Linked DNA regions of Homo sapiens. The protein of the gene in region 2 purifies or fractionates together with the protein of the main gene of each other region. This does not show direct contact. Each region holds a gene or a part of one and is shown on either strand. Other genes may lie near its edges.

Region 1 (3,500 bases), on a different chromosome or scaffold from region 2:
CTCATGGCAGTTTCCTAAAATATTCACTATAGTTTAAAGCTGTGCAGGCCAGGCATGGTGGCTCACGCCTGTAATCCCAGCACTTGGGGAGGCCGAGGTGGGTGGATCATGAGGTCAGGAGATCGAGACCATCCTGGCTAACACGATGAAACTCCGTCTCTACTAAAAATACAAAAAACTAGCCAGGTGTGGCGGCGGGCGCCTGTAGTCCCAGCTACTCCGGAGACTGAGGCAGGAGAATGGCGTGAACCGGGAGGCGGAGCTTGCAGTGAGCCAGAGCTTGCAGTGAGCGGAGATGGCGCCACTGCACTCCAGCCTGGGAGACAGAGCGAGACTCCGTCTCAAAAAATAAATAAATAAATAAATAAATAAATAAATAAAATAAAGCTGTGCGATATTTTGTGCTTTTATGTAAAATAGAGTCTAAGCTCATTTAATCTATACAGTGGATTCAGCTACATAAACATCTAACGACATTCAAAAGTCAAAAAGGACAAGGGACAATGCTTCTTTATGTGAGATTATTCCATGTACTGCAGGACACGGCCCCCCATTCACCAAACGCTAGTCATGCCCCTCAGTCACTGTGACAACCAAAAACAGTCCTTGGTGAGATACAATGATCTAAAGGAACTTACTCCAAGGAATAGGAAAAAAAATACTTTTCCCCCCTCTCCCCAGCTCCTTCAAATATAGTTCCCTAACAACCAAGACCCAGAACTTAATATAGTAAGTTTATGTGGCTTTTGCAGGCTAACATAGGGAACTATTCAACATTACGTCACTATTTCTATTGGACTACACACTCCAAATTTCAAACTTAGAAATAACTGTTGGGAACACAGTAACACAGTGCTTCTATTAAGTCTGACTTAAATACATTGATTGCCATCAATGTCCTCCACAATTTTTTAAAATGATAGGCTGGAATCCAAGCTACATACAACCAATGCACTCTAAAGACCAAGCATACATGTAAAAAGATTGCTGTGTAGGCAAATGAAACAACAGTCAATTCAACAAATATTTTATAATATATCTAGGCCTAGCCAGATGCGGTGGCTGTAATCTCACGCCTGTAATCCCAACACTTTGGGAGGCTCAGGTAGGTGGATTACTTGAGGCCAGGAGTTTGAGACCAGCCTGGCCAACATGGTGAAACCCCATCTCTACTAAAAATACAAAAAATTAGCCAGGCACGGTGGCATGTGCCTGTAAACCCAGCTACTTAAGAGGCTGAGGCATGAAAATCGCTTGCACCTGGGAGGCGGAGGTGGCAGTGAGCCGAGATCACACCACTATATAAATATATCTTATTTTTGTGACAAACAGATACCAACTACATACCCTTTTACTAAGATATATTATTATTTTACACTTTAGTTTTCTGCTTTACTATAGATACTGATTGATTCTACTGGTTCTAGATACTGGGAAATGTTCTTTTCCAATATTTATCTGTATTCAGCACCGGTACTTTAATATCTGTGTTCACAACCAGTAGCAAATACTTGCCATCACCACACAGAGTTAAAAGGCCCCTTAAAGATACGGGATGAACTGGATTTCCTTGTCCTCCCCTCCCTACAACCCCCATTACTCCCCAAGTCTAAGGTTCTCTGAGTTCTGAATTCCAACCATGCATTCTCACTACATATATCTTCTCCCAATTTACCCACTCAACGCATCCTCAAACTCTCCGATTTCAAAGCAACCAAGACACACAATCCCTGCTGTTTTGGAGGACACATTACAGTGGGTATAGAGAACTGAGCTTTCTTTTCCGTGATTAATGCCATACCCAGATTATTCAACCAGGTTCTGTATTAAGTAAGGGTACCTAAATGACCTCTAATTTTTCACCCTAATAAAGTATATGTTATCTTCTTAGACGCTGTATAAGTAAATCCTCTAAAGGCCTAACCCAAGATACAAATTTCAGCTATTTCAGCTATGCTGAGGTCAAAGTTTCCTCCTTGAGGTATGCCTTGATATGAAAAAAAAAAAGATAAATAGGAACAACTTTGGTTTTCTCCTCAAGCATCAATGCAAAAGCATTAATCTCAACCTCTCTGTACTGAAAGACTAAGAAATGTGATTTCCAAATATCTAAATGTCTAAAGAATTAGACATCTGGAAAAGTCTGGCATAACCTTGAAGATAATGAAAAAAAAAAAAGTACTATCTCCAAAAACTAACAGTCGTCTCTCTTGAGCTACTCTAATAAGTAAAGATAAATTGTAATGGTTATTGTTTATGGAATACTTTTTCAGGACCAAGGAGATTTATACATTATTTCTAATCCTCAAAGCATTATGCGTTATTATGCCCATTTTACAGATGAAGAAATTGAAACTTGGAGAAGCTAAAAAACTTGCTGAATGTCTAGCTTAGAAGTAGCAGAGTCAAAATTCACAGCCACTTTTTGGAATCCAAAGCCTGGTTCTTTCTGCTACATTGACATGCTTCTCAATTTTTCGAAGCAGTTAATTTTCATTACTGTGAACCATATATTATGCTGTTGAATGTCAAATACATACTACAGTACTGCTTTGAAAATTTTATTGCTTTTAAATACTTTTTTTTTTTTTCCCAGACAGGGTCTCACTCTGTCACCCAGGCTGGAGTGCAGTGGCATGACCTTAGCTCACTGCAGCCTCAGCCTCCCAGGCTCAAGTGATCCTCCTGCTTCAGCCTCCCAAGTAGCTGGGACTACAGGTGTGAACCACCATGCCTGGCTATTTAAATTTTCATTTGTTTAATAAAGATAAAATGCTATGCCAATGGGGCAAGATTACAAAGCAAGTATGAAACTATTTCATTAATATCTAGGGTAGCCTAGGCCAGGTATGGTGGCTCACGCCTGTAATTCCAGCACTTTGGGAGGCTGAGGTGGGCGGATCACTTGAGGTCTGGAGTTCAAGACCAGCCCGGCCAACATGGTGAAACCCTGTCTCTACTAAAAATACAAAAATTAGCCAGGCCTGGTGGCGGGCACCTATAGTCTCAGCTACTCAGGAGGCTGAGGCAGGAGGATCACAGGAGCCCAGGAGGTGGGGGTTGCTGTGAGGCAAGATCATGGCACTGCACTCCAGCCTGGGCAACAGAGCGAGACCCTGTCTCCAAAAAAACAAACAAATAAAATCCAGGGTAGCCTAAAGATCAAATATTTACAAAAACCCAAATGCCTGGAGAATAGCCCCTCCTTTCTCTTAATGTACATGATTGTCATTTTGACAGAGGGCTGAGCATTACATCCATTCCAAGTAAGAAATGTTATAGGTTAATGGTCAGAAATAACCCTAATTATTTTCATTGTACCTTTGTAATTTGAACATTACTCCAAAAAAGATCTTATGCTTTCAAGGTTCTGATATATGCTTGTGACTAAAATTTTAAATACCTCAGAATCTAAAAACTGAACTGACAGCAAAAATAAAATACCTATCTTGTTTACCACAGACAAAGTAAAAAAAAAAAAAAAAAAAGAAAGAAAGAAA
Region 2 (4,036 bases):
TTTGGTGATAGTCTTTTTGCCAGTGCTTGCCTCAGAGTAGAAACTTTTGATTTTTTCTCCCGTGCCTGTTCTGGTTGTGAGTAAAACCTATTTGATGACAGATTTTCCATCAGGGTTTGCAACGGACCAAGTGGCTTTGAGTTATTTGAGTTTGGTGCCCGAAGCAAGTCTCTTGATAGTCCCTCTATCAGTGCTTGAACTGAGCCAATTGCCTGTGGGGGTTCTAGTGTCCAAGCCTGTGCCTGAGGTGATCCTTCAGTTTGCCCCTCTACTGGAATGAGCACCTGAGTATCCAAATGTAGTGGCAACAGCACATGGTGATCTTGTGATAGCAGGGGCAGAAATACCTGGGCATTTACTCGTAATGACTCAGGTTCCTCTGCCTCAGTCTCTGCCTGTGCAGGCTCGGCAGCCTGTTCCTGTACCTCTGGCTGTTCAGGTGCCTGGTTCTGCTCCAGCTCTTGTTCAGGCACCTGGTTGTGCCTCTGCTGTTGTTCAGGGGCCTGGCCCTGCCTTTGTTGTTCGGGTACCTGATCTTGACCCTGAAATTCCTCTGGTACCTGGTCCAAATCTTGTGGTTCTGATGTCTGGGTCTGGGCCTGCTGCTTTTTGGATACCTGGGACTGTACCTGCAGAAGCCTAGGTGCCCTAACCTGTGCCTGTAGTGGCATGAGCACCCTGGCTGCCCTCCGTAGTCGTGGAGGTGCCTTAATCTGCATTTGTAGAGGTTTAGAGGCCTTAGCCTTCACCTGAGCCTGTAGTGGCATGAACACCCGAGCTGCCCCTTGTAGTCGTTGAGGTGCCTGAGCCTGCCCCTTTAGAGGCTTAGGTGCACTGTCCAGAGCCTGCAGTGGCATGAATACCCTGGCTGCTCCCTGTAGCTGCTGAAGTGCCTGGACCTGTGGCTCTTCTCGATCAGGTAGCCACCTTGGCTGAGAGGGTTCCCCATGCAGGACTCTAAGTGGTCTGCATCTGCTGCTGGTTGGCAATCTCAGAAGCTCGTGAGTGCAAGAGGGTCCTCTAAAATAAACACACAAATGATTGGCATACAATTAGAATTTTTAGTGGAATGGAGCCATTCAGGGGCATTGTTTTTACTTTAAAAGATGGACATTTTCTGCAATGAAGATACCTTCAGTAAACCTTTCTGAAATCATTCCCTTGATGTCTGAAATATTCTGCAGGTAACATTTGTATTACTAATGTATTCAATTATTAATGAAATATGATATCTACTTGATCTTCACTTGCCAGATATTAAGGAGTCTTTGGGTAGTAATAAAGAATTCTCACATTTTCACTCAATATCTCTTAAAAACAGAGATTTGTTATTTGTTGTATCAGAAAGAATTAAGTCTTTCTGAACCAAAGGCAACAGTATGGAATCAACGGCCTTATGTGAATTGCTATCATCAAATTATATATGCAATTTGTGGAACGCACCTGAATCTTCTCACGGTGTACTGTTCCTTAATAGCTTCTTCTCTTTCAAAGATCAAAGGTATTCCTTTTTTTACAAAAGAGAAAAACATAATGCATAAACAGTCAGCAGATAAGCATGTTATCCACTTAATCACCTTGTTCCCTCTGCTTCTTAGGATGTGGAGTGAATTACAAGGGCAAGAAGGTAGCCCTTCAAAAGTACTTGGTTTGTGATGTAGACCATATTCTAGTTTCTAGGCCCACTTTTGCAGCACAATATAGCTATTGCATGCAGATTAATTTCTCTGAACAGAGAAAATTTAGCAACTTGATTTCTGCAATTCTAAAGAGGAAGAAGAGAGAATGGGACAAAGGGAGAATGAGACAAGAGAAACTCTAAATAGTGGTGAGCATGGCTTACAGCTGTGGGCTCTAGATGTAAGGACTTTATGGCTTGAGGTTGATATTTGGTCTTTTCAATGAGAAGGCAAATTCTTAATTCTGTGTTTTACACTAAACACATTGAAAACATTCAGCTTCTTTCCTATCATCAGCTGTACTGTGACTACTGAAATATAGAAGATTACAAACAAGAGTTTTATTTTGAATTTCCTATATTAAAATGTTCAGGGCAACTATATTTATATCTTTAGTGTAACTTCCATATAAATGGAACTTTTCCTACAGGTAACATTTTGGAAATTTTGCAATTCTGGAAATTAGCAAATTACCATATAGATGTGTGGTTTTCCTGAACCCATTTGAAACTGGCTGGCCTCTGTAAAGTTGGCTGAATAACTTCATTACCATAGGTAAATAAATTAATTCTTGCTGCTCCTTGCCTCAAAACATGATACATGTATAGATACAACAAGCCCCACTACAATCAATCCCACAGCTGATCTGAGGATGCCTGCTTTTTCAAGTTTTCCCTTTTACATTCCATTGTTACTCTCAACTCTGCCTATGGTCCGCAAAATCAAATGTGGAATATGTAATATAATATATAAAGTTAGGACTTCCCAGGGGCTTCTTCTGGACTTGGTGAAAATCCATCCTGGTACTTTTATTTTTATTTTTTTGAGGCAGCGTCTTGTTCTGTCACCCGGGCTGGAGTGCAGTGGCATGATCTTGGCTCACTGCAAATCCTGCCATTTTTAATAGAAGTTCACTTTTATTAATAGACAGAAGTTTATGTTTATTTGTATAAATCAGTTCCTTTAATTATATTTTATATTTGGAGTTTAGTACATAAAACAAGCTTTGTATGGTGCACAAATACTACTTCAAAATTAGCAGTGAATAAATGGTTAATTACAAATCCATTTATCTCTTGTAGAGTCAAAATACCAGCTGAAAAAAAAGCAAGATATACATTTTGTTACCTTTTATCTTTTATTTATTTTATTTAGTTAGTTACTTAAAATTGGCATATCACAAAACTTTATTGGATGCTTTCAAGGTCTTCATAAATATGAACATTTGCCAGGTGTAACTGGCAAGAATTAGTAACTATACACACACACACACACACACACACACACACACACACACACACACGCAAGAGAAAATTAAATAAGAGCACATGGCATATTATTGGCAAAACTAAATATCAAAGGCCTCAGAAGTTTTATTTTCAATCTAAGTCTTAAACAAATATTACTTTTTCCTGGAAACAATACATGAATAAACTCTGAATATTCATTTCAGTAAAATAAAACTTAACAGATTCTACCTTTTTTCTGTCTTTTTTTAATGATTCCAGTAAGATGCCTTGTTAATGACTCAACAACATGTCGTTCATTTTTTATATCCCGAACAAATGGGTGTTGAAGCATGTTTGCAGAAGTAGGACGAAACAGGAAATTTTTTATCGTACACTTTTCCATGAAATTGTGGAACTTACGGGACCTAAAAAATGAGTCAAAGAGAGGAAAAAAAAGTGTTCTCAGTCCTGTCAGACCTCTTCCCACCACCACCCACATGCCTCTCTGAAAATCATATTTGGAGAGAGTTGCCTTTAGGTATTATTGTCTTCTCAATTGCCAAATATCCTGCAGTTTGGCAACATACGTTATAAAGTGAGGCCATTTAGACCTCAGAAAAAGAAGCAAGAGTCAATAGCATATTCCATCTAAATTACAGTAGAAGTTTCAATGAGTTAACTGTATGTACCTGGTAAAAACTCAAGTGCAGATATGATGATTAAATGGTTAATGTGATATATGTAGTCTGCAAGACTAGATTGATCGGCCCACAGCAGTCATACTCTGTATTTTTCATTTGACTATATGCAGTTTTAACTACAGAGGAATGAATATAATGATCCAAAAATAGGATGTTAAAAGCACCAGGACTAACTAATCTTGTAAAATGACCCATGAAAACAGATGTGGCCATAAAAACTGAATCCATGGAAAGGGTTAAATTGAATTCCAATGCAGAATGTTAACAATCAAATCACAGTCACCACTTCTACCAGGGAAAGCAATAAAAACTAATAATAAGCAAGAGTTTCAGGTACAAGATCAACAAGCTTCAGAGAGAAGGATTCCCAAGTTTAGCTGGCATGTAAGTGCCCTGGGAAAACAAGTCTTCTGCTCTAGGTCTGTGT

What was found.
Region 1: the proteins of NRK (region 2) and BLTP3A purify together in Homo sapiens (affinity purification with mass spectrometry, with the first as the bait; one large-scale study listed by BioGRID). This does not show direct contact.

What each region holds. Positions count from the first base shown.
Region 1 is NC_000006.12:34,798,583-34,802,082, reverse strand, and holds part of BLTP3A (bridge-like lipid transfer protein family member 3A), read right to left. Parts: intron 1-3,500. UniProt on the Homo sapiens protein: Tube-forming lipid transport protein which probably mediates the transfer of lipids between membranes at organelle contact sites. May be involved in the retrograde traffic of vesicle clusters in the endocytic pathway to the Golgi complex.
Region 2 is NC_000023.11:105,905,711-105,909,746, reverse strand, and holds part of NRK (nik-related protein kinase), read right to left. Parts: intron 3,334-4,036; coding exon 3,158-3,333; intron 1,508-3,157; coding exon 1,444-1,507; intron 1,021-1,443; coding exon 1-1,020. UniProt on the Homo sapiens protein: May phosphorylate cofilin-1 and induce actin polymerization through this process, during the late stages of embryogenesis. Involved in the TNF-alpha-induced signaling pathway.